Linked DNA regions of Homo sapiens. The protein of the gene in region 1 interacts with the protein of each later gene in a biochemical or structural test. Each region holds a gene or a part of one and is shown on either strand. Other genes may lie near its edges.

Region 1 (7,030 bases):
GAGTGAAGCCAAGCAAACCATTGTTCCCTTCCTTGAGAGAGGCAAGCCGGAGTCTGAGAGACTGGCACATGAAATTGATGTGGTCTACCACAGAGAACTCGGGGCTTTTTCTATCACACCACACCAGGTTCCCACCGAATTTGCTTAGGAAGGAAGACAAGATGCGATTGAAATTCCCTGGAATTATCACACACGGTGTGCAACGTACAATTCTTGCCGAACCCAAACTTGGGTTCCCTTGAAAAGTGCAGTGTGTCGGCAGAAAGAGTTGAGGTAGGTGTGGGGAGGAAAAGCCTCGGCACGTACATATTTTTGCAAAATGGCTCAGGTAGCCTTGTTCTTAGAAGTGGCTTAGTGGTCTATGCAAAGCCTGAACACTCACATGCCTCTGCGTTCCTAGAACCACAGGTAAAAATCTCAGCGAGACCGACTCCCTGCTTGTCTTCTCAGCGGTTCAAGTTTACCCCACTGAAGCAGTCTTTCAAAGGGAATTGCCAAGTACAAAGCTGCATGTATAAAGTATGTTCTTCTCTAAGCATCGGCTTGCCGCTCTTTTCAGAAGAATATTTATTAAGACACTTCTTCTGGCTTGACTGAACACTTAAGATCTTAAGACTTCAGGCTTAAGCCACAGAAATTTATTTTCACACAGTTCTGGAGGGAGACTGGAGGTGTGAGATCAAGGTGTCGGCAAGGCTGATTTCTGGTGAGGCCTCTCTCCTTGGTTTTGCAGACAGCTCCCTTCTCCCTGTTTCATCACATGGTTATCCCTCTGTGTGTGTCTGTATCCTAATCTCTTCTTATAAGGATACCAATTGCATTGTATTGGGGCTAGCCTAATGACGTCATTTTAAAACCCTATGTCCAAATAGTGTCAAATTATGAGCACCTTGGGGTTAGGACTTCAATGTATTAATTCTAGGGAGACATACTGCAGTCCCTAACAGTGGGTCTTAGCAAATCTGACCCACCCTGGCCCACAAGGAAACTGTGGGATGGGGCATCCTGGCTGCTCTCTTGGATGTTAAAGAATCAGACTGTAGTTCCTCCTTTGTGAGATGGAGTTTCACATCTGAAACTGCCCACACATTTTGAAACTATAAAAAAAAAAGGTGTGATAAAACTATCTAAACTCACAATCATGCCTTTGCCATTTAGACTTTTTGCACGCTAAGAAACTGTAGAAAATGACGAGTAATTTTGAAATGTTTAAGTGTTAAAAGAGCAAATGGCAGCCGCCCCAAAGAAACCTCCTCTTGGCTCTGCTTTCTTGGGGAGGATTGTCTTTGTACTTCAGACTGACTTTATTAGTGGGGTTTAGGGGGCTGTAGGAGGCCCCACAGCTGCTCACACACCGAGTACAGGGGCATGGAGCAACCAGTAGCAGAAGCACCTTTGGAAACAGCAACTGACCCGATTCTGAATGGCAAGAAGCCTTTCTGAGCTTTTGAAAGCAAATGAGTAGCTGAGACGTTCCTACATTCTCTCAAAATAGATCCGAAAGATGTGCTCAGAAAATATGTAGCCCTTTACTGAGAAATCAAGCCTGGTGAGATGCTGGGACAGAGGACGGCTGCACAGCCGCTGTGCACACACAGACTTTAATAAGGAGCCCAAGGCCTAGAGAGAAGAGTCTGGAGGCATAAGAGCACCTGCTATTAGAGAAAGCAATGGCAGGAGGTCTGTGCAGGGAATGTGCTCAGATGACACAGTGATGGCCTTTTCTTTCTTTTCTTTTTTCTGGCTTTCATCAAATAGCATATAGAACTTCTCTCTTGAGCCTTAGTTTCCTCATCTGCAGAGTAAGGATTGCAATAGTACCTGTTATTAAGGTAGCTGTGTGGACCGAATTAATCTGTGTAAGGTGCTTTGCCCAGCCATATAAAGTAAGCAATAAATCTGAATGGTGGCTATCAATGTTCAGTTATCTAAGAAGGCAGCCAGTCAACCGCTGTCTGCTCTAGGGAGGGAGAGGTCACAATGCCCTGGAGGACATTACAGGAGGCTCCCTGGAGAGAGGGACACAGGAGTTGGGGGAGGGGAAGTTGGGAACAAAGGAAAGAAGGAAGAGTGGTCTAGGCCGAGAGTACAGCCTGGGCAAAGTTAGAGCTGCAGGATCCCACATGGGCATGGACAGCAGTGGGTAACTCAGTCCACCCTAAGGGCTTTTCACCAGCAGGTCAGCCTTCCTTCCCTTGTGGAAAAAGAACGAGAGCCCTTTATGAAATTCAACTTAACAAGTTTTGATTTTAAATATGGAGGCTAGTTGGGGCAGGATGTCATGCTAAGTCTTTGATCTGAACACACAAGGACAACAGAGATGTCTCTTTTCATTGAGACTGCTGGTGTAGCTTTATTTTCTCCAAGGCTCTTCTTAAGGAAAAGGCCATTTTGCCTGTATACCTTTGAGCAGGTTCTCTGGGCCTCTGAGAGACTCCCATTTTCCCTGCTCCTTGGGAACATTTGTAATCATGTACTTTGTCAAAGCCCAGACATGAAGGTAGCTTTGATGGCTTGTCTTGTTGGAGGCAGCAGAGGAGGCCCACACAGGAAACTCAAGCAAATTTTCAGTTTCTCAGGTAACTTCCTAGTGACCTAGATGAGTCAATAGATGTCTTTGTGTCTCATTTGAGTTCTGCAAAATGGGCTAATAATATTCTAGACAAGCTTGCATCTAAATTACCAAGTTCCTGTTGGAAGTCTTTACATGCATCAGAAAGAGGTACCATAAAACACATCACAAATCTTCTTAGCTTAATAACACAAAGCCACTTAAAAATATTTTATTTTCTGTTTAGAAAATAGTTCTCCCATCATTTCACAAATGCAAGATATTTTCCCTCATTTTCGTAATTGCTTTCTCCAACTCCCATTTTTCAAGAAATCTTCAGAAGCTACACTGGTGCCTGAACAGATATTAAAATGTTCAAAGCACTTTTCCCACAACTCTTGTTTCTCGGCCTCCCCTGCTCCTCCCCATCAGATGCCACCAGTCCCCTTCTTTAGCCTTTTTGCTGAGCCTCCAGCCAAGGCAAAGAGGTATGTCTTTCTTGACCTCTTCCCTCTCATAAAATATAATAACTAGGATGTCCTGGAGTGGTAAAAAGGGAGCATTTCCTTTGAGATCTTTGCTGACCGTGAACACAATCAGGGAGTACTTTACGAGAACACAGGCTGGCTCTTGAACACAAAACAGGGCTCAAAACCTCCTGTCACCTTCAACATGCTGGGAGGATAAGCTCAGACACACTGCTCTCACTTGCGCAGGCTTCACTCTTTGTTGGGGAGACACGTGTTATACTCTCTTGGCTCTCTGAATCTCTCTCTTTCTCTCCCTCCCTCATCTTGCAATAACACTGAGTAATGATGCCAGAAAGGAGCCAAGGTGGAGGAATAAACACTAAATCCGAAACATGACGGAAATTATGTATTTTATTGCAGTGACAGAAAGAGTAAGGCCCTTGCTCAGGTTTACCCATGAAAATTATGTTTGGCTGCACGTAGAGAAAAGCTGACCACAGTGGCTTGAGCAGACGGGCAGGAGTTCCAGAGTGAGCAGTCCAGGCTGATACGGTGGGGTGCAGGACACTCCTATGTTTTGGTCCCACCATGCTGAGGCCAGGGAGAGATGGCCTGCACCTCTGATCTGTCCAGGCAGAAAGGACATGGGAGGCCTCAACCCCTTCTTGTGGGTCCTGGTATTTTTATTCAGGAAGGGAAGCCCTTCTCTGCAAACTTTCGCTGACATATTGCTTAGGCCACAACTAGGTCACAGGCCTCTGGCTGGAGGGAACTGAGGACAATGGAGTTGTCACTTTCCAGCCTGGAGAGTGGAGGGAAGCAGAGAGGAAGGTAGCTGGGAGCAGATGTCTCGTGAACCCAGAGCCACATCTGCCAGACCTGGTGACAAAGACAGGCTGTGTGCCTTCCCAGTCATATCTTGTATCATTTGTTTTCTGTGCCAGCTGGGCTTTGGAAACAAATGCAGAGAAACTTTATGTTCTTCCTTCATTCCCTCTTGGAAGTTGCAGATGGATGCCAAGGGTGAATATTTATTGTTGACCCATTGAAAGCAAACTGGACAGGAGAAGGGATGAGGTGGGGGAAGGGGCTAGGTTAAATGGATCCAAGTTCACACCTATTTTCAGTGTCAAAGCCCCAAATCACACTTGAGCGTCTCCTCAAGTTAGAATGAGCAATAGAAAACCAGACAGCCCTGTATCTATGGGAATGTTGCTTGCATCAGAGCCACCACACCTTGCTGTGAGGTTGATCGGTTTCTCGCAGCTGGAAATAGTTGCTTCCCGCCCCCCATCTTCCTCACTCTTTTAAACTCTCAAAAATCCCCCAGCCTCCCAAATTTGTTTTAATTTTTAAGAGAATTCTTTTCTACAAAAGAGGGAAACCTTCTTTCAAATGGCCCTTCATAAATTTCCCTAAAGAGGTTTTTATCTCTGATAGAAATATGAAAAACAGATAACCAGATAATTGCCCTCTATCTAGGCTTTAAACACTTATTCATACATTGAATTTCTGCAAGTTACAGATGATTGTTGCTGTGTGATTACTGGCCCTGTCTATTTCCTCAGCATGGATGCAAATCTTTCTCCCTGAGAAAGTCATTGCTTCGTTAAAAAAAAAAAAAAAAAGAAAGAAAGAAAAAGAAGAAAGAAAGGATGAATGAAAAGAAAGTTGTTATTCAGTTTTTCTCTTGAAATTAGAAATTTCTTTTTGTTTTGCTTTCATTTTGTTTTTCTGCAAGATCGGTGTTCATTTAGAGAATTGTTGATTTTGTATGCAGCACTGCCCTCCCATGCCATGGTCCATATGTGTCCATTTTTTGATGGACTTCTTTTTAAACAATGAGTTCCCCAAGACATTTTTGGGGCCTCAAATGGGAAAGGTCATCACAAATAGAAATCTCAGTTTGCTAGTTGGGCTTGCTCAATCGCTCTGCTGATCTCAGGACTGATGCTGCTTTGCATAAATGCGAAGTTCATGTTAAATTGATTCTAAATCAAATACTCAACGTATTCAGTCTTGAAACATGTCCATTGGGAGAGAGAACTATGCAGCTCCAACATTTTGCAAAGATTCTACTTTGCTTTCTTTGCCAACATCCAACTTTTACTTCTGGGCGTTAGAATACCCTCCGTAGAGACTGTGACTTCTCAAAAGAAACTTTGCTAGTCTCGAATGGAGAATGAAATAATAAGATTTGAGCAATAAATCAAATATAGCCTGAGAGCAACACCACAGAGCAGCCTCTGTCATCTCCTCTCCTTGGGAGGTACGTGGGTCTTGATCAGCTCTCATGTGCTTCTGAAAATGTGTAGGTTTTCATATATATGTTTTTCATTGTTAGTAGATCCTAAAGAAAGACCCAGAAAATCTTGCAGCAGTCAGCTTGCCAGATGGGGGTTATGTTAAAAAGAGCAAACAGAAGTCAGAGCTCTGAACACACCGCAGGGTATTCCATAGTCACATTCCATTGTGGGTGAGTTTTTGTTGTTGGTTTTTTTTTTTTTTTTTTTTTTTGGATGGAGTCTACTAGCTCTGTCACCAGGCTGGAGTGCAGTGGCCCCATCTCAGCTCACTGCAATCTCCGCCTCCCACGTTCAGCCATTCTCCTGCCTCAGCCTCCTGAGTAGCTGGGATTACAGGTGTGTGCCACCACGCCCGGCTAATTTTTGTATTTTTAGTAGAGACAGGTTTTCACCATGTTGGCCAGGATGGTTTCGATCTCCCGACCTCGTGATCTGCCCGCCTCAGCCTCCCAAAATGCTGGGATTACAGGTATGAGCCACTGCACCCGGCCCATCCTAGGTGAGTTTTTTAAGGGAGACAAAAAATGTCAGAGTGGCACTCATTGCTCAAGAGAGAAGCACTTCCCCTTTTACTGTGCAAAATTTTATAATATGTATAGCTATCAATGTTTGTTTCTTATTACTGCCCCAGAATGTGCAAAAGAGAGTTTAGGTCAACTAAGATACATTGGTTTGAGTGCCATTTTTTTCAGGAGCAGTTTTAACACCAACCACAGTTTGCTGCACTTTCTTACACAGCTTCTGTTTGCACTTTGAACTCTGTGCACTGAGCCCCTCATTCCACACCATCTGCAGGCTGCATCTGGGCAGCTTCATCCAGCTCGGTAACAGTCACAGCTGAACTTGACATTCACCCACTTTGAAAGTATAGAATTCATAAAATCTGAAACCACATATGTGTATAAAACCCATGCAAGAGTGGGTAGGAACTAAAAGGAGGAGAAAAAGTAGTCCTCCCCTTCAGGAGTGTTCTCTCTTATCCCAGCCCCTTTCATGTAATGAATGGGTGAATGGGTGAAAATGAAATTATTTAGGCATTGACTGACAGGTAGGAACAGAAACTCAGGCTTCTAGTTTATTATTATTTATTATTATTGAATCTACTGTTTCTAAAGATGAGAATGGCTTTTACTTCCAAAGTTCTAGAGGAGAGGAACAACGTTAAGCAACCTTAAACAAATATTAGCACTGTGAAAGGTGCAGGGTCATATAAAGAAGTAGAAGTGCCGACAATGAAAATTCTATCCAACTGTCAATCATTCCATATCATTACTTCATTTTTTTAAATAAAGGCTGTGTCTCCCATATGCTTCCCTCCAGGTTGTATTCAAAACAAAGAAATAATTGTATTACAGATGTGAATAAATCTGTTTAAAAAATAAGTGAACCCTGAGACATATGAACTATGAGACATTGTTCTATATGATGCTTTGTAAGTTTTATGTGCTGTGTCATAGAGTTATATAGAGTTATGTATATATATAGTTCTGTATAGTTTCAGTTGGCATCTAAAAATTATATAACTTTATTTTTTAAAATCTATAATTATAAATATTTTTAAACTGCTAGAAAGGAAGAGCCGAATATTTGGCTGGAGTGATTTTTAGACATTTCTCTACCTTAGGGCACCAGAGAGGTTCACTTGCCCAGGGTTCCATAGCTGGTTGGTGCCAGAGTCCGAACGAGAAACCAGGTCTTCTCAG
Region 2 (7,941 bases), on another chromosome or scaffold:
TAAGAAACAGAATTAAAATAAAGGGAGAGGAAGAAGAAATAAAGAATGTGTGGAAAAGATAGAAAGATACAGAGAAAAAGAAAATTAGACACACAGTCAGAAAGAGAGGAAAATAGAGATACAGCAAGAGACCAAAAGAGAGGTGTGATATCAAAAGACAGAACTTGAGATAGTGACCTACCTCCCTCAGGCACATCCTCCAGAGATAAACCACAGGCACAGGCTCACACATGGAAAATAAAGAGCTGTCAGGAAAATAAGAGCAACACACACCAAGTGAGAATAAGATACAAGCCACACAGACATCATGCTAAGAATACCCTGAGAGTAAGAGAGACATACACACCTAAATGCATACACCAAAAAGAGGGTTATCTCTATCCTGTGGCCTTGAAGATATTGTGATGTTGTGCAGTTTCACAACTATAGGCATACATGAAAAAAAAAAGACCCTTTGTTCCATGTCCTGTAAGCAAAATGAACTTGAAATGAGGTCAAAGCTCCCCCATGTTCACTCTACCAACTCCTGAGAAAGATATGACTTGCACCATTTTGTAGAAAGGCAAATTAAGGAGAGGTAACTGGTATAAATGGTTACTAAATCCTTTCCAGTTTTCTTGCCTTTATTATTGTTCTTCAATGCACCCTGAAGTTAAATGGTATTTTGGCAACCTAGAGTTCCATGTACTGTTAAAAAAAAAAAAAAGTGATTTTTTTAAATGATTGATTAAACTCCTTAGAACACTGACTGCTAATGTGCTTATTAAATAAATAAAATACAATGCACACTATCTCTAGCCAAATGGGACAGCTCCCAGACCCCTCTCATTGTCTCAGGCCCATGACTGGTAAGGCCCTCTCTGCTTGGAGCAATCTCTGGTGCTCTTTTCTGGTACCTCCTTAGCCCTCCCCATCCTTCTACTATCTCCACCCATAAAACAGGACACATATTCAGGTAGAATTTAAGAAACCTGTATTTCCCTCCAAACTAGTTTCACCAAAGTCACTAATGCAACTCTTGTTGCTAAATCCAATTGATGCCTTTCTGCCTTTTTTTTTTTTTTTTTTTTTTTGAGATGGAATTTAGCTCTTGTTGCCTAGGCTAGAGTGCAATGGCACTAGAACTCGGCTCACTGCAACCTCTGCCTCCTGGGTTCAAGCGATTATCCTATCTCAGCCTCCCAAGTAGCTGGGATTACAGGTGCCCACCGCCACGTCTGGCTAATTTTTTTTGTGTTTTTAGTAGAGATGGAGTTTCATCATGTTGGCCAGGCTGGTCTCAAACTCTTGACCTCAGGTGATCTGCCTGCCTCAGCCTCCCAAAGTGCTGGGATTACAGGCGTGAGCCACAGCACCCAGCTGCTTTTCTGCTTTCATCTGACGTGGGCCTCTCAATAGCATGCAGCACTGTTGACCTTGCTGGGATGTTGAGGAATCCCCCGTCCTGGCTGTCCTCCAACTTCTCTGCCCTCTTGTCCATGGGGAGCTCTTTTTCCTCTTCCCATGTCTCAAATACTGGTACTCCCCAGGTTCTGTCACAGATCCTCTCTCCTCCCAGCTCCCATGCTCTCCTTCAGTGACATTTCACTGTTAGGTTTATACCTTGCTGCCACTTGACTGCAGTCACCGGAAGGAAAGGAGACAATTAGTATACTCAGTCTGCCAATTCATGAAGGAAAATCTAAGCTCATTTCAAGAATATTTTTCCGTTATATCATACGAACTTCGCTAGCTCAATTGAATGCATGTTTTGCATCTCATGGATACAGCTTCAGTCATGGTGGTCTGAAGAGAAGGTGGACCTCTGTCTGTATGGCTCCATCTTGTTCCCCTTCCATGGGACTCTATTTCCTTGCCCAAGATTGTTCCCTTCTTATGGGGAGGAGACTACCTGTAAAATGTTTTCGGTTGACACAAGTGATATTCATTTTAAGACTGCCTAGAATCACTCACTGCTAGACAGCAGCTGGGATGGACTTAGAGGCAGTTACTGAACACTGGTCAGTGCTGAATTCAGGGGCAGTCCTATAAAGCAGGGCCTTGCTCCAAGACGCTGCCAATCCAGTTATGAACACAGGGTACCTACACAGAAGACAAGAGTCAGCCATCTAGGGTGCGGGTATGCTGTGGACAACAGAGTGTGAGCAACAGGCAGGAAATGTTCTGTGAGCCTAAGGAAAGATGAGACAAAAGTCAGTGGGGCTGGTCAGAGGGAGGAGTTAGAATAATAATAACTTTTATTGAACCCCTACTATGTGTCTGCCCTCTATATAAAACTCTCTCTCTAATCTAACCCAGCCTCAGAGGCTGTGATGAGGACTATATGAAATGCCTTTTATCGAGTTTGTAGTGTTGTGCTGGACACAAGGGAGCATGCAACAAATTGCAGCTATCATCCATTCAACAAATATGTGTGCAGTACTCACCATGCGTTAGGCAATGCAGTTATTGGACATACAATCCAAAACAAGAAAAACATGGTTTCTGTCCTTACTGAGCTTACAGTCTAGAGACACCTTGTCCAAAATGGTAGCCACTAACCACCCATGGTTATTAAAATTAAAAATTCAGTTCCTCAGTCATACTAGCCACATTTCATGTGCTCCACAGACATAAGTAGCTACACTGCCATTATGGCAGCAAGTTCTAATGGCCAGCACTAGAAAGGGGCAGAGAGACATGCATGTAGGGTATGTATTAACAGGGAGTTACATACCTGTGTGGTGAAGGCTATGATAGAGATTTACAGATGCAAAAGGAGAACATTACTATTGTTCTCCTTCTCATAATCAAAATACAGACACTGAGGCTCAGAGAGGTTAAGCATTTTGACCAAGATCACATAGTTAAGTGGAAGAGCTAGGATTTGAACCTAGGTCTGACTTACTCCCACGCTATCTCGGGCTGTTTTGTGGAGGAGGTGAGCCAGGCACAGGTAGAATCTGCTTAAAGAGAGAAGATGGAGAAGGTACCCCTCTGGGAAAGTGGGTGGGAAAGTGACCGCTTGGGCAAAGGCACAGTGACAGAGATGGGTGAAGCTGGCACTGGGCTACAAGTAAACCAGTTTGGCTAGAGAAGCAGTGACTTGCTGAACTCATGTCCTTAGAAAGCTAAGTCAGGACTCGCCTGCCTTGATGAAAAGCCAAGGCACTCAGCCCCACCTGCAGAGGTTGAGTCCTTAGAGGATGTTAGCCAGGAGCGTGGCATGGCCAGAACCACGTATTATGAAGATGGCAATATTTAGGATGACCTGGGCCAAGACTAAAGTTAAAGATTGCAGGGAGGATAGAAGGGAAGGAGATAAATGACCGGTGTGGAGCAAAAAACACTAGAGTGGGAGCCACGAGACCTATTCCTAAGCTTCAATACTGTGTGACATTGGGCAACAGATTTTACTTCTCTGGACTCCATTTCTTCAACTCTAAAAGGGCAGGGCTGGCCCAGATGACCTCTGAGGTCCTTTTAGCAACAGTAGTCTAGGATTCTGCAAACGTGAATGGCATTAGGTTAAGAGAAGGGATAGGAAGTGTAGCATTGATTATGGGGGCAAGGAAGACCGCAGAGTACAAGATCACACAGAGGAAGGTGTCGTGATGTACCACTAAAAAAGTGTGAAAGAGCTTGCCTTTTTTGGGAAGGACTGAAGGATGGGAACGGAGGATGGAGACCGGAAAGGATAAGAAGTAGTGAGAAAATCACGAGGTTGTTTTTAAGAAAGTTATACAGTGTTAGAGATCATTATTTTACACAGATAGCTTTTCAACTTTTTTAAACCCACGATTCACAGACGGAAATAAAATTGACATCATGGTCCAGTACACTTGTCCAGTACCTATAATCGAAACAAAAGGTTTATGAAACAATAGTTGCCCTTACTAAGGGCAATGGACTCTAATATTTTCTATTGGATTCCATTTCGTTCTTTTTGAAAGCTGGTTGCCTTCCGCTGCATTTATTTTATGATCTATTACTGTGTCACGACCCACAGTTTTAAAAACAGTGCCTAAGAGGAGACTCAACAAGTCTTCCTAAGTTGGAGGGGATGGCAGGGCATCCTATCCAAGCATCCGGGAGGCAGCTGGAGAAGCAAACCTGGAGAGGCTCCCGGCTGGGGAGAGTCTGGAGAGTGTTTAGCGGAAGCCCTGATAGGAGAGAGCGCTGAGAAAAGCGAGGACCCAGAGAGTTGTGAGCTCCCATTCAAGTGATGGAGTGGCGGCCCTCGGGACAGTGTAGACGCGAGGAGGAGAAGATCAGGGTGGCGTGGAAGCCAGACTCCGGCAGGAACCCAGCGACCACCCCGGGGGCTGCATTTCCGCGGCGTGCACGGCAGGGCTTCGGTGCCTCTGACCTCGTGTGGCTTTCCGAAGCTCCTCCACTCACCCGCCCTCCTCCGGAGCACGGCGCGCGCCCACTCCTTCATTCATTCATTCCACTCCTACCTCCGCGAGCGCCAACCGGCTGTGAGATGGGCGAGCCACTTTGCCAGCGTGGGGCTCTCTTTCGGGTCGGTTCCCTCCCCGCCAGCACACGCGCGAACCCTCGCACCTGGGCACACACGCGCGCGCGTGCACACACACACACAAAGTTCTGGGGGCCCCTCTGCAGACCGGCTCGGCTGCGCTGGGCTCGGAGCCGTGCGCCCGCCGGGTCCAGGCCGGCCCTCTCACCCACTACCCGGGGCCCGCCCTGCGCCCAGTCCCCCCGCGCTGCGCGGCAGCCCCTCCCAGCGCGGTCCCCTCGGGCCGCCGGCGCGGCTCTGCCCTTCGGTTCGGCCTTCCCCGCCTCGCATCCGTGCCATCGGCGCTCGATTGCGCGCGGACTCCCTGTGGCTCTCCCGGCCCCGCGCCCCGCCCCCGCCCCCGCCCGCCGCCCCCCTCCGCCAGCAACTTTTGCGGAGCCCCCGCGCCCAGCCATGCTGAGCTGAGCCCCGCCGGCCCTGGCCGCGCGCTGCCCCCGGCTCCCGCCCCTCCGCGGATCCGCTCGGGGGCCGCGGCCGCTCGGCGCCTCGGCCTCGGCCGCTCCGCCCGCCCGGCCGCCCCGAGCCCCGAGCCCCGAGCCCCCCGCGCCGGGCCCGGGCGGCAGCGGCGGCGGCGGCGGCGGCGGCGCGCCCGGCCCCCTCCCCCGGCGCCGGCCACGGGAGGCGGTGATGCGGGCGCGGGCGGCCTCGGCTGCGCCGAGAGCGGAGACACAGGCTCAAGATGGCAGATTCCGACTGAGGCTGGGGGGGCCGAGCTCGCGCGCCGCTTTCCCGTCCCCGTTGCCATGAACCGCGGACACCCCGGCCCCGATGGCCCCCGTGTACGAAGGTAAGGGGCGCCCGGCCCCGCCGACCCCGCGCCCGCCGCCCTCCGCGGCCCCCGCAGCTTTGTTCTGCCCGCGGCCCCGCGCCCGCAGCCCCCGGCGCCTGCCCCAGCCCCCACCCGGGGCCCGAGGGGGCCGCGACCCCCTCCCTCGCCCGGAAGATGACCGGGACCCGGCGCCGGCAGGGTCTTGCTTCCAGGGCGGGGAGAGGGGCCGGGGGCGCAGGAGGGGAGGGGGCGTGTGCGAGGGTGGGCGGCTGCCCGGGGAGGGCAGGGACGCCGGGGAAGGCGGACCGGTGACTGTGCTTTTTATTTATTTGCGATAAATGAAGGTGATGCGGCTTAGCTTCCACCGCCCCCCCACATTACCTTTCGGAGCACCTCCTTTCCACTTCGCTCTCCGCCCCGCGCCCCTTCCCATTTCTTTCCGCGCCCACCCCACGCTCCTTTATTCTCCGCGAGCCTCCGATTTTGGGGGGGCTGTGGAATCGGAATGCACGGGGCTAGGTGGGGAGAGAGGAGAGAGATGAAAAGTCCATGTCAGAGCCAGGCAGAACAATGAAATAGGCGAAAATCTCCCCTCATTAGCGTGTGGAAGGGGACGTGGACTTTGGGTTTTCCAGCCGGGGGAGCGGCGGAGACGTTTTTCTGGCTCGGTCTGGGTCGATCTGTGTTGTGCACCTTCACCTGGCATCGGGGTATTTTTCCCCATTTGACTGCCTTTAGCAAGAAAGAAAAGAACGCAAGGCAGAAAAGCAGTAGGTCTGCCTCGCACACTGTCTTTCGTTTCTCTTCAGTCCGTTCTGTCAGCTTCCAGCCAGAAAGCAACCCAGAATCAACTAAGTTTTTACACTTCGATGTGTTTTTGTGTGCTTGTAGTAGGAGAAATTTTAAACCCAAGTGTGTCTGATTTTTCAGTCGTTTCATCGTGTAAATGTTTGTCTCATGAAATCATTGAAATCGCAGCCTTCACATACTTTTAGCGTGGGTCCCCCGGCTTTCTTTCGGTTTTGTTCAGATATTCTGTGGATGAAATCGCAAATGAGAGGGGACAGGGTTTGTGTGGCACAGAGGAGGGCACGAGGGGGGAATGTAATCCTCCTGTAAATCCGGAGAACAGTTGTGGCCAGTGAGACAGGGAAGGCATTAATAGTTTTATCTCTGTTATAAGAGGCTGATTAAAAAAAAAAAAACTTAAAAGAAAATCTGTTATTAGTTTCAGGGCTCCAAATGAATTAGGTTTCTGGCCGGAATAAAGTTACCAGTCAGGCCCTGGATAACGAGGCTGTAAATAACCTATAGACTGTAAATATTTTTTTTTCAGACTCTCTTAGAAACAAAGGGGCTGTTTAGAAGGCAACAGAGAGATGTTATTCCAGGGGCTTTCCTCTTTGATTCTGAAGAACACAAGGTCCATTTAACCATTCGACAAAACAAAACGAAATTTCTGATCACTCCACCACGCAGAATAGAACATGCCGGTGGACATGTGAACATGCGGGAGAACCCATGTCGGGCGTTCATTGTTCATCTGCGTCTACAGGAGGGGGCTACAGTCAATGCTCCCACTGTCTAGAGTGTTAAAATGAAACAATTTTCTCTTTATTAAGTACCTCCTTGAGACTCCCTCTGCTGGACACTCCCGGTGAGTTGAGAGAAGGAACTTGGCATTGAATTCAGAACTATAGTAAACGGCTGGTTTCCCTGTTACTAGGGACCGGGTATGTGAGTTGGGGTGTATTTTGTCAACTTTGTGGAAAGCCATCTTGGGAACTGCACTGTTCTCCTCCTGCTCCTTTCATTTTAAATCCATATGGAAGGTAGGCCATGCCCCCGAGGCTGAGACTTGGCTCTCCCCGTTCCTGCTACATTGTTCTTCCAGTTCCTTACGCCAGATAAAGAACTGCAGGTGTGTAGGGTGTTACGGTTTAAGAATAATCATGGATCTCAAAAGTCTCATGAACTGTTTTTATTTGCCAGCCTTCCTTCCCTGTCTCAGGTGACCTCCGCGGTGGCCTCTTTCAGCCCTCAGTTTCCCTCCATCTTGTCCGTGTGCCCTCTTCATTGTTCCTGCGCTGTGCACCCTTTTATTCCGGATGTTTATCTGTGCACCTTTATAATTATTTTTCTAATCTTCCTCCCCATCCCACCTCAACTGGCCCACATCAGTCTGCCAAAAGCCCAGATCTGGGTGTTTTTGAAAGAGATTGTTGGACATGCTCTAAAACAGACAGGTGACTTCTAGAATCAAGGATTAGGTTGCTAGGACCCGCATTCACTCACTGTGATGAGTGTGCCAAGACTCTGATGACCTCCTTTCTCCTGCCGTGGTGACATCCTCTGGGTTCAGGAAACCTGATTTTTCCCCTGTCTCAATCAGAGCACATGGACTCCCTGTGTGCATGCTAAACGAGCAGAGCTTTTCCTGTAGATTTCTATAAGAAGAGGGATTCCTTGTGGGTTTTGAGCTCCTAAAGAGTGTGCATGATTCTTCTCAGGAAAAGTATAACGACACGAGAGGGAATTGTTTCAATGGGGTGCTGCTGCACCAAGTTGGAATACCAGGTGAAGGCCCAGATACATTAATGGAGCGTTCTGAACCGCCAGAGATTTAGACAGAAATGCTGTTTTTGAAACAAGG
Region 3 (5,400 bases), on another chromosome or scaffold:
TGGCCGGGCGCGGTGGCTCACGCCTATAATCCCAGCACTTTGGGAGGCTGAGGTGGGTGGATCACGAGGTCAGGAGTTCAAGACCAGCCTGGCCAAAATGGTGAAACCCTGTCTCTACTAAAAATACAAAAATTAGCCAGGCACAGTGGCGGGATCCCAGCTACTTGGGAGACTGAGGCAGGAGAATCGCTTGAACCAGGGCTGCAGAGGTTACAGTGAGCTGAGATTGAGCACCCCAGCATGGGTGACAGAGTGAGATTCTGTCTCAAAAAAAAAAAAAAAAAAAAATATATATATATATATATATATAAAATATATAAATATGTACCATATGTTACAACGCTAGTTACTTTTGCATTTCTAAGTTGTTTACACAAATGCAGAAATACAGAATCTGGCAGCCAGTAATTCAACCCAGCTCTATCTTCCTGCTGCTATCTATCTCTCCATCCCCATGCATATACAACCCTTCCCCATCCCTAACACAGTGACATGAAACACAACAGATGTTTTAAGTGTACATCATACATTTATTACCAACAACCCTCTCAACTCCAAAATTGGGCACAGGGATTAAAAATAAAAATTCATTGCACTACTTAGTAAAGCATTACTAGTAACTTTCATAAAAAATGTACAAACTTTGTTAAAAATTTATCAAGCCTTCAAATGATTTGGTTACAGATATTTATAATACATACATTTAAAACTATATGTTAACTGATACAATGGAATATGATTTGAGAAAATGACTCAGCAAATGATTCCAAAAAACACCCCTGTGAGCTTTCACAATCTGAAACGGCAAAATGAGGTAACCAAATGTACCAACAGGGGGACAAACAAACAGCTTTCTAATGAAAAGGCCCAAAGATAATCTGTGAAAAATATTCTCACAAGTGAGTCGGTAGATCTCATTCAAAATTATTCTAAGAGGCCCAAATTTAAGAATCTTAACAAATCACATTTCAGATAGTATATAAAATCTAAATATGCTTTCACATTTTCCAGATTTTGCTCAAAAAATTAAGGACAGAAAATCCTAATATGAGATCTTGATACCTGGAGGCCTTATTTTTTTGAGGGGCTGGGGGTTAAAAAAACACCAAAGATGACAATTCATGCCAAAAAACAAACAAGAACCCACAAAAAACCCACAGCTGAGTTAAGATGGTAAAGCCAATATTATTTTAGGAGGAAAGAGGACGAAGGCCAATGAACCAACATCTGCCTGCTATCTGGTGCATCACCCAAGGTGACCAATGGCTGGGCACAAATAAACTTCTCTTTTGCTAGCCACAGAGTTGCTCACTGTGGCAAGCCTGAGCTGGTCAGAACACCTGTGTGTGTGTTCCTGATACACACTAACCACAATAAGCAAGTCTGCACACATCTCTATGAGCCCCATGCAAAGACAAGACATTCCCAAAGATCAGTCACTAGAGTGCAACAACGAAATTCAAGATTTGACCAAAACAGACCCTGCTGCCTCCTAAATTGCCAATTGCCTCTCAAAAACTTACAGAAAAAGGGACATTATAAGAATTCATAGAGGGAGAGAAGAAAAAGCTGCTACTCCTAGTCATTAGTACAATGTGCTGTGTTAATTAGATACCTCTATATAAATTAGAAAAAGTGCTTTACTTGCATGCTTCAATAAAATGAATACTGAGTGTCGTAGTGTTAGATCTGTACAGATATAAATTTTTTGCAGCTATATAAAAGTGTATAAGATGGGCTTTTGCCATTTTAAACATGATTTTTTTTCATTAAAAAAGATTAAACTATATGTGATTTGTATGTAGCTGATTATTATGCCAAGAATTTTGGTCTTTAACACACTTTTTATTCATCAGGAACAGGTGAGGGATATCCTAATGATTTAAAAGTAACATGTGCATTAACCATGTGCATTTTTACCACTATTTAGAAGTATTTCTGATGCACTGACAACCCTAGGGGCAAACACAGTATGCAAAACCCTACTTGTAGGACTAGATAGAGGCAACAATGTCTCGCAAAGGGCAAAATTGTGCTTCTGTGAATTGACTTTACTTAACTCTAGGCTGTGATGAGCTTATAGACACTTCAAGGGAGGGCAAGCAGCATGGCAGTAACAAGTAGTTAACACTGAATGGAAAACTGACACAGAGCCAACTGAAAGTTGAGTGGGGCTGGCAGCAAGTTATCACAGTCCTGACTGGAATAATGCAGCTTGTGCTATTGCAAACAAAGCAATTACATCAACTGCAGGAAGAGGCAGACAATGTTGAATACACTAAAAGAATGAGAAAGTAATTTAAACATTGCTGGAAAAATGACTTTAAAGTGAATTATGCTCAAAGAACTTACTAAAAAAAACCCCATACAGCTATGTATTACATCAACTAAATGAAGGTCAACTCCTGTTTAACAGCATTATTTTTTTATACAAAAACCAAATCTTCATTTATACTGCAAGTATTCTGGACACCTGTTGTATTAAACTTTTCTCATTCAAACAAAAATTAAAAGGAAAGGCAGTAAAATATCAAAACAAATCAGGTCTAAGGAACATGAGCTGTAACAGCACTTGATCCATCCTGAAACCAGGGTTTCGATGAGAAGCACGTGTGATGAAGGAAGAACTAGACAACTTTCAGAATTGGAGTCTGGCAAGTGAATTAATATGAACAGAAATAGAGTTTTCTTAAAACAATTGAGTTGCCCACAGGAGCTTGAACACAGAACACATATGAGAAGTCAAGCTGAATTAACAGGTTTTGTTCTGGTGGAAGTCAACAAGGTGAGACTTCATGGGACTAGTGGTCTTCTTAGAAATATATTAATCAAATATCTTCAGAATAGACTAGACTACAAATCTAAACATTAAAAAAAATCACAGGTACTTTCTGTAAGAAACTTACTGGAAATGTAAAGGAAAAAAAAGTATCAACATTCAAATCACTGATTGAAATGCTAATATTGCTAACTGATGATATATGATATTGCACCTTCTTTTTGGAAACAGCAAGTTGGAGATTTAAAAATTTCCACAACAGAATAAAAAAAAACCAGGTTCATGGAGCGAGAATTTGTTACACTTTTTTTTCTTAAGTGACCCACTTAGGACCACCAATAAAGAGAAGGTGACAGCTGCCTGAAGCAAAGGAAGAAGGCTTTTCTCATTCCATTCACTGGGAGGGAAGGGGATGGAGTATTCAATGCTTGTAATTGATGCACCCTCAGCAATCAGTGTGCAACAGCAAACACAAGGGAAAAAAACCAGTGTACAGTACTAGTGCTGTTTAAATAACACACCAGATTATACATTGCAGCATAATTAAAACTACACACACATTCTTGGTACATGCTGGTATATAGGATCTCATACACACGTTAGCTACCATGCCCTCACACAAGTAGTTGCACACACTCACACAGATACACTTATCACCAACAGTCATACGCTGCGCATTCATTTCCACTCACAGTTTCTGAAGGCTCTATATAAGGTAGATTGCTATATCATCTGTAGCTACCACTTTTTATAAAAGCACATGCTAAAAGATCACGTCCACTGTAATCTTGCAGCAACACTCGGAATGATCACACAAAAACCAGGGAATGTTAGTGCACACACAAAATTAAGCTAAAGAAAAAGTCTTTGGAGTTCCAATCACACGGTTAGTATAACAATCCCATAACTGTGAAGACTAATTGTAAGCTTTTATAGTTGATTAAGTCACACAGTGCAAAGAAAGGTCCATTGACCCTTTTGGTAAAGGGAGGGCTGGAAGCCACACAGATTAAGTTCAATGGATAGTCCGTATATACATGTGATGAGGAACACCCAAACTAAATTTGTGCTTCTTAGGTTGGTCATTCTGAATCCCGATGCACTTCTGAAGCATCAGCTCGGCAAATTGGGCAAGTACGATTTGCCTACAAAACAAAAAGGAAAACTTGTTTAAATTGTGACACATACAATGAAACACATTCAAAGCAATGGAACTACTTTTACTTCCCACAGTTTTTACATTCTTTCTTCCTCTGAAGAGGTACAAAGCAATTTTTGCCTTTTTTTAACCCATAAACCTCCGAATTAGCCCAGGAATTTTTTTTTTGAGATGGAGTTTCGCTCTTGTTGCCCAGGCTGGAGTGCAATGGCACGATCTCAACTCACTGCAACCACTGCCTCCTGGGTTCAAGCGATTCTCCCGTCTCAGCCTCCCGAGCAGCTGAGATTACAGGTGCCCACCACCATGCCTGGCTAATTTTTGTATTTTAGTAGAGACGGGGTTTCACCATGTTGGTCAGGCTGGTCTCAAACTCCTGACCTCGGGTGATCCACCCACCATGGCCTCCCAAGGTGCTGGGATTACAGGCGTGAGCCACTGCGCCTGGCCGCCATGAATGATTTTTAGTAGGTCTGTTAAAATATATAAACAAGATTACCATTGACCAGTTTGGACCAAGTTAACAACTGACATTAAAGTAAAAGCTTGGTTAGTCTTTTTTTCCCCCGTTTTTTGAGACAGGGTTAAACCCTGTTGCCCACAGGAGCACAGTGGCATGACTACAGCTCACTACAGACTTGAACTCCTGGGCCTAAGTGATCCTCCTGCTTCAGCTTCCTGAAAACCTAGGATTAACAGGTGTGTGCCACCACACCCAACCAATTTAAAAGACGGGTTTCACTAAGTTGCCCAGGCTGGTCTCAAACTCCAGGCCTCAAATGATCCTCCTGCCTTTGCCTCCCAAAATGTTGGGATTACATGCCTGAGTCACCATTCCTGGCCCCTTGGCTATTCTTAATGGAATGAAGTCACAGAAAACATTTAGTGGTACCGAGGAAAGCTTGATTGTAAAATAGGTGACTGACTCTATACTGATAGCTCTACTTACTCACCTGTTCCCTGGCTCCTAAATTTGCTTTCTCCATTTCAACAAATGGGACCATAATTTGTGGAGTTGCTAATGCCAGACACATAAGCATCACCTGCTCTCCTACTTCCTACAACCCCATTATTCAGCACATAATCTTATTTCTGCATTACAGTAATTCTCAAATCAGTCCCTCTTTTCATCTAGTTGCTACTATCCATTCTCTGGCCCACCATGTCTTTATTCTATCTCCCTGTCTCTCAGAAATTACCTCTTTTATTAGAACAGTGGCCAGAAATCCTTCTATAAAACAGTCTGTTATATACTTCCCAAATGCTTTCAGGATCACACTAAACTCCTTTACGCTTCAGAGTGGCTTCACAACAAGCCGCTCATTGATTTTATCTCTGAACACCTTTTCTTTTCCCACTCTTCCTCACATTCCAACTATCAGCCACACGGAACTTGTGGTTTTCTGATTCTCTGTCCGCACGTGTCAGGGATTTACACATATAATGCTTTCCTTTTAAAATA
Region 4 (6,280 bases), on another chromosome or scaffold:
GGCAGAAGACCGAAGGCCCACAGCGGATCAGCGCCAAGATCAGCCAGATCCCCCCGGCCAGTGCAATGGACATTGAATTTCAGCAGTCAGTGTCCAAGTCCCAGGTCAAACCTGATTCTGTCACAGCATCGCAGCCTCCATCCAAAGGCCCTCAAGCTCCTGCAGGCTATGCGAACGTGGCCACCCATTCCACGTTGGTACTGACCGCCCAGACATATAATGCCTCTCCTGTGATTTCGTCTGTGAAGGCCGATAGGCCATCCTTGGAGAAGCCCGAGCCCATTCACCTCTCGGTGTCCACGCCTGTCACCCAGGGAGGCACAGTGAAGGTTCTCACCCAGGGGATCAACACACCCCCTGTGCTGGTTCACAACCAGCTGGTCCTCACCCCAAGCATTGTCACCACAAACAAGAAGCTTGCTGACCCCGTCACCCTTAAAATCGAGACCAAGGTCCTTCAGCCGGCCAACCTGGGGTCCACGCTCACGCCCCACCACCCTCCTGCTCTGCCCAGCAAACTGCCTACAGAAGTCAACCATGTCCCCTCGGGGCCCAGCATCCCAGCAGATCGAACTGTCTCCCATTTGGCAGCTGCAAAGCTAGATGCTCATTCTCCTCGACCAAGTGGACCCGGGCCATCCTCATTCCCAAGGGCAAGCCACCCCAGCAGTACTGCATCTACGGCGCTCTCCACCAACGCCACAGTCATGCTGGCTGCAGGCATCCCAGTGCCCCAGTTCATCTCCAGCATCCACCCAGAGCAGTCTGTCATCATGCCACCCCACAGCATCACCCAGACTGTGTCCCTGAGCCACCTCTCCCAGGGCGAGGTGAGAATGAACACTCCCACGCTGCCCAGTATCACCTACAGCATCCGGCCAGAAGCGCTTCACTCTCCTCGGGCTCCGCTGCAGCCCCAGCAAATAGAGGTCAGGGCCCCACAGCGTGCCAGCACCCCGCAGCCAGCCCCAGCTGGTGTGCCTGCACTGGCCTCCCAGCACCCTCCCGAGGAGGAAGTGCATTATCACCTTCCTGTCGCTCGAGCCACAGCCCCTGTGCAGTCAGAGGTACTAGTCATGCAGTCTGAGTACCGACTGCACCCCTATACTGTGCCACGGGATGTGAGGATCATGGTGCATCCACATGTGACGGCAGTCAGCGAGCAGCCCAGGGCCGCGGATGGGGTGGTGAAGGTGCCACCAGCCAGCAAGGCCCCTCAGCAGCCAGGGAAGGAAGCTGCCAAGACACCAGATGCCAAAGCTGCCCCCACCCCCACCCCTGCCCCCGTCCCTGTCCCTGTCCCCCTTCCTGCCCCTGCTCCTGCCCCTCATGGTGAGGCCCGTATCCTCACAGTTACCCCCAGTAACCAACTCCAGGGGCTGCCTCTGACCCCTCCTGTGGTGGTGACCCATGGGGTGCAGATTGTGCACTCCAGCGGGGAGCTGTTTCAAGAGTACCGGTACGGCGACATCCGCACCTACCACCCCCCGGCCCAGCTCACACACACTCAGTTTCCCGCCGCTTCCTCTGTTGGCCTGCCTTCCCGGACCAAGACAGCTGCTCAGGTGAGCCAGCCAGGTATCTCCCCACTGTCTGTTGGGCATGTGCTTGTGGGGCTCAGCAGGCTTTTAAGCCAAGATGTGTGAAAGAAATCAGGGGCCAGGTGTGGTGGCTTATGCCTGTAATCCCAGCACTGTGGGAGGCCCAGATGGGAGGACTGCTTAAGCCCGGGAGTTCGAGACCAGCCTGGGCAACATGGCAAAACCCCATCTCGTACAAAAAAAAAAAATTACAAAAATTAGCCAGGTGTGGTGGCACACACCTGTGGTTTCAGCTACCTGGGAGGCTGAGGTGGGAAAATTGCTTGAGCCCTGGAGGCAGAGGTTGCATTGAACCAAGGTCGTGCCACTAGGCTCCAGTGACAGAGCGAGACCCAGTCTCAAAAAAAAAAAAAGCCGGGCATAGTGGCTCACGCCTGTAATCCCAACACTTTGGGAGGCCAGGGCTGGCAGATCACTTGAGGTCAGGAGTTCAAGACCAGCTTGGCCAACATGGTGAAACTCTGTCCCTACTTAAAGAAAAAGAAATCCGCCTTTTGGTAAAGATAGTGGTTGAGTACAAGTGAACTGGTCAGCTAGTCCCTAAAGATGTTGATCTTTTCATGAGTTTAAAGAGCTTTCTTAGTTCTGAGATGAAAGTATTAGATCACATCATGGGGAGTTCTGCATATGGGGAGGGAGCTCTTGCTGGGTAGCATCAGCAGGAGGCAGGTAATAGGGGATCTCTCCTTACCTGGAACCCCGAAAGCAGCTCCGTTGATTCAGGCTCCTTCTGTGGGCCTGACTTAACGGGAGATGCCACATCTTATCCTTTCCCTGTGGCCCTTTGGGTCATTTGTTGGTCTCAGGGGCTTGTGCACAACAGACTGACTCTGTCCCTTTGCCTTCCTTCCCTACACCAGGGCCCTCCTCCTGAAGGTGAGCCCCTGCAGCCTCCTCAGCCTGTGCAGTCCACACAGCCTGCCCAGCCTGCACCACCCTGCCCGCCCTCCCAGCTCGGTCAGCCCGGCCAGCCACCAAGCAGCAAGATGCCTCAAGTGTCCCAGGAGGCAAAGGGGACCCAGACGGGAGTAGAGCAGCCTCGCCTCCCAGCTGGACCTGCAAACAGGCCACCTGAGCCTCACACCCAGGTTCAGAGGGCACAAGCAGAAACAGGCCCGACTTCCTTCCCCTCCCCTGTGTCTGTCTCCATGAAGCCTGACCTTCCAGTCTCTCTTCCCACTCAGACTGCCCCAAAACAGCCGTTGTTTGTCCCAACAACCTCTGGCCCCAGCACCCCACCAGGACTGGTTCTGCCACACACTGAATTCCAGCCAGCCCCCAAACAAGATTCCTCTCCACACCTGACTTCCCAGAGACCCGTGGATATGGTTCAACTTCTGAAGGTAAGCATGAGCAGGGGCTGCCCTTCCTGGCCCCCAAGTTTTATGCCATGTCAAATGTCCTAAGATTCCCTAGTTAACAGACCCACAAGCTACAGCCTCTGGCTGTGTCCAGCATGGCTCAGCGAGGGGCCATGAGCTCACTTCCTGTTTGTTTCCCTGTGAGCAGAAGTACCCCATCGTGTGGCAGGGCCTGCTGGCCCTCAAGAATGACACAGCTGCTGTGCAGCTCCACTTCGTCTCTGGCAACAACGTCCTGGCCCATCGGTCCCTGCCCCTTTCTGAAGGAGGGCCCCCACTAAGGATCGCCCAGAGGATGCGGCTGGAGGCAACGCAGCTGGAAGGGGTTGCCCGAAGGATGACGGTAAGACTCTCAGGCCCAGGTGAGCAACTGCCCCACCTACAGGGAGGAAGACGTAGGTAGTCCCTGCCAGCCCATCTCCCTGGCCTGTCATGGAAGCATTAACTGTATTCTTGTTGTTGTTGAAACAGTCTCTGTCGCCTGGGCTGGAGTGCAGCGGTGCGATCTCTGTTCATTATAGCCTCTGCCTCCCGGGTTCAAGCCATTCTCTTGCCTCAGCCTCCTGAGTAGCTGGGATTATAGGCACGCACCACCATGGCACCACCATGCCCAGCTAATTTTTTGTATTTTTAGTAGAGATGGGGTTTCACCATGTTGGCCAGGCCAGCCTTGAACTCCTGACCTCAAGTGATCTGGCTGCCTTGGCCTCCCAAAGTGCTGGGATTACAGGCCTGAGCCACTGTGCCTGGCCAGTAACGGTATTCTTGAAGTGAGCAATGAAGGGTCCACTATGCTTCTACTTGGTGGGGGGATGTAAAGTACCTCTAGACCCAGAAACAAGGCTTTACAGTTTTTAAAAATTATTATTTTTTAAATCAGCTTTCTCAGGTTGAAAAAAAGCTTTTTTTTTTTTTTTTTTTCATTCAAATATCAGGGTAGCCTTTAAAGTCATCTCAGAGGTGGGGGTTTTTGTGGACCTGATACTGTGGGTTGGATGTGGGCTGCTGTTTGACTAGGAGGCCCCTGCTCACTGGCAGCTGGCCTCTGCCTCAGGTGGAGACAGATTACTGTCTGCTGCTGGCTCTGCCCTGTGGCCGTGACCAAGAGGATGTTGTGAGCCAGACCGAGTCCCTCAAGGCTGCCTTCATCACTTACCTGCAGGCCAAGCAGGCGGCAGGGATCATCAACGTTCCCAACCCTGGCTCCAATCAGGTCGGTTGTCCTGTGTCCTTCCTTCACATGTACACCCACAGGTGGGGCTGATCAGGGTAGGTGGGCCTACTCATCTGGTGCCCACTAGATCTGGCCCCAGAGGTGGGCAAAGGGGCATTTTGGACAGAAGTCAGTAGAGCACATGGGGCGGGGCGCCATCACCCATCCTGAAGAGAACCCAGGGAACCGCTGAGAACACAGGTTTTCCATGAGTTTAAAGATAGGGCCCCAGGGGGTTCCTGTTTATAGTTTTCTGACACCTGCTAGGTCTTCCAGTAGACATAGTCCTGGCACATTTGCTGGTTGGGGACTGATTTGGCCTGGCTCTTAGCATTGGGCCTCTTCAGGGCTCCCCAATGGAAGTGGAGTTGTGGGGGTGAAGACAGACGGTCCCACTTTGCTCTCTATCCTGTCTCCAGCCTGCCTACGTGCTGCAGATCTTCCCGCCCTGTGAGTTCTCTGAGAGTCACCTGTCCCGCCTGGCCCCTGACCTCCTTGCCAGCATCTCCAACATCTCTCCCCACCTCATGATTGTCATTGCCTCCGTGTGAGCCACTGAGTGGTTATCACCTCAGTGAATCTTCCCAGGGCTCTGCAGTAAAAACAAAGGACAACCCAGCCAAGCAGAGGAAGAAGCTGCCGAAGGGGACAGACTCCACTGCCAGACGGCCAGCCGTTTGCTGTCCTGCCGCCCGGCTCAGTCGGCCAGACTTCCTCTAGGAGTGGTGCTGCTACCTTGTATGTTTACATAATGCTTTAGCCCAAGGACACATCACCAACCCATGGACTCGCAGACACCGGGGCTGGGTTTCTCTTTCCTCTTTTTGGAGAAAAGGAACAGGGCAGTGGAATGAAAATTTTTTGTTTGTTTGTTTTTAAGAAACAAGAAAACAGAACTGCCTTTGCACTAAATTAGTGACTTGGACTTTTGCCCAGTGAAGACAGGCTGTGACACTCTGGATGTCTTGGTGTGTGTAGACACACATTGCAGACTCTTAACGCAGGAAGGACTTCAAACTTCTGCTGAGACCTTGGGGTCAAGGAACATTTCATTGGTTTTTTTTGTCCACCCCCATCTCCCTTGCTCATTTGGATGCGTCACCTTAATTCTCCTGCTGCCACCGTCTTTGATTCACCGGGATGTACAGTTTACAGTTGAAGAGCAAACAGAAAGGTTTTCTCTTGGTGGGATATGCAGAACTTGGGATGTGTGTATATATAAATATATAATATATATAAATATATATAATACTGACTTAAAAAATCAAATCCCCCGACATACGTTTTTTTTAATCTGTGCCAAAAATGTGTTTTCAGAGGAAATCTTATTTTCATATTCAGACTTTGTATTGCCCACTCATTTGTATAAGTGCGCTTCGGTACAGCACGGGTCCTGCTCCCGCGATGTGGAAGTGTCACACGGCACCTGTACAAAAAGACTGGCTAACCCCTCTTCCTATTACCTTGATCTCTTCCCCCAACTTCCTAACACTTATTAATTTATGAAACTGTTTTTCTCAGCGCAGTTTTGTTTTGTGTGTCCATTGGATTACAAACTTTATTAAAAAATATAAAACACACCAAGTGTGAGTGTGATTGTCACTTGGGTGGGAGGACGAACCATGGGTCCTTGGCTTATGGGAACAGTCAGCCCTCATCCCGCTTTTGATCCCCATGCCAAGTCTGTACATGGGAACTGTTTCCCTTCTGCCTCCTAGTCAGTCAGTCCTCCTCCCCAAGGATAATTTTATCTTGTACAAAGGAGATTTTTGTCACGGACACTGAACTTAACCATTTCTCACTCTTGTGGTGTCTTCAGAGTCCTAACTGGTTCTTAGGTAATGTGGAAGGAAGGCACTTCCAATTTTGATACAGAATATAACCACACCCCATGCCATCTCAGAAACATTTTAGCAAGCTTTGGTTTCTTGTCTCTCTCTTGCCCCCTCTTCCCTTCTCCCAGTGTGAAGCAGGCTGACTCCTGCAGAGGCAGTGGCCTCCTGGGGCCCCTGGGGGCTCATTTGATCCCGTCTCTGCCTCCAGACAGGAGAATGGGAGTTGGGGACAGGCTTCCCCTGCAGCTGGATTCTCTAGAAGCTGTGGAG

The links.
Region 2: of the proteins of RUNX1 (region 1) and HIPK2, one has a biochemical effect on the other in vitro, tested with the Homo sapiens proteins (one study listed by BioGRID and IntAct).
Region 3: the proteins of RUNX1 (region 1) and RNF38 form a complex in vitro, tested with the Homo sapiens proteins (one study listed by BioGRID).
Region 4: the proteins of RUNX1 (region 1) and SPEN interact in a test that uses a peptide from one of them, tested with the Homo sapiens proteins (one study listed by BioGRID).

The regions. Positions count from the first base shown.
Region 1 is NC_000021.9:35,039,280-35,046,309, reverse strand, and holds part of RUNX1 (runt-related transcription factor 1), read left to right. Parts: intron 1-6,883; exon of another isoform or gene 6,884-7,030.
Region 2 is NC_000007.14:139,774,970-139,782,910, reverse strand, and holds the start of HIPK2 (homeodomain-interacting protein kinase 2), read left to right. Parts: upstream 1-4,912; 5' UTR 4,913-5,287; coding exon 5,288-5,306; intron 5,307-6,763; exon of another isoform or gene 6,764-7,941.
Region 3 is NC_000009.12:36,335,891-36,341,290, forward strand, and holds the end of RNF38 (E3 ubiquitin-protein ligase RNF38), read right to left. Parts: intron 3,925-5,400; coding exon 3,862-3,924; 3' UTR 510-3,861; downstream 1-509. UniProt on the Homo sapiens protein: Acts as an E3 ubiquitin-protein ligase able to ubiquitinate p53/TP53 which promotes its relocalization to discrete foci associated with PML nuclear bodies. Exhibits preference for UBE2D2 as a E2 enzyme.
Region 4 is NC_000001.11:15,934,702-15,940,981, forward strand, and holds the end of SPEN (msx2-interacting protein), read left to right. Parts: coding exon 1-1,565; intron 1,566-2,461; coding exon 2,462-2,944; intron 2,945-3,110; coding exon 3,111-3,305; intron 3,306-4,016; coding exon 4,017-4,175; intron 4,176-4,594; coding exon 4,595-4,726; 3' UTR 4,727-5,755; downstream 5,756-6,280. UniProt on the Homo sapiens protein: May serve as a nuclear matrix platform that organizes and integrates transcriptional responses. In osteoblasts, supports transcription activation: synergizes with RUNX2 to enhance FGFR2-mediated activation of the osteocalcin FGF-responsive element (OCFRE).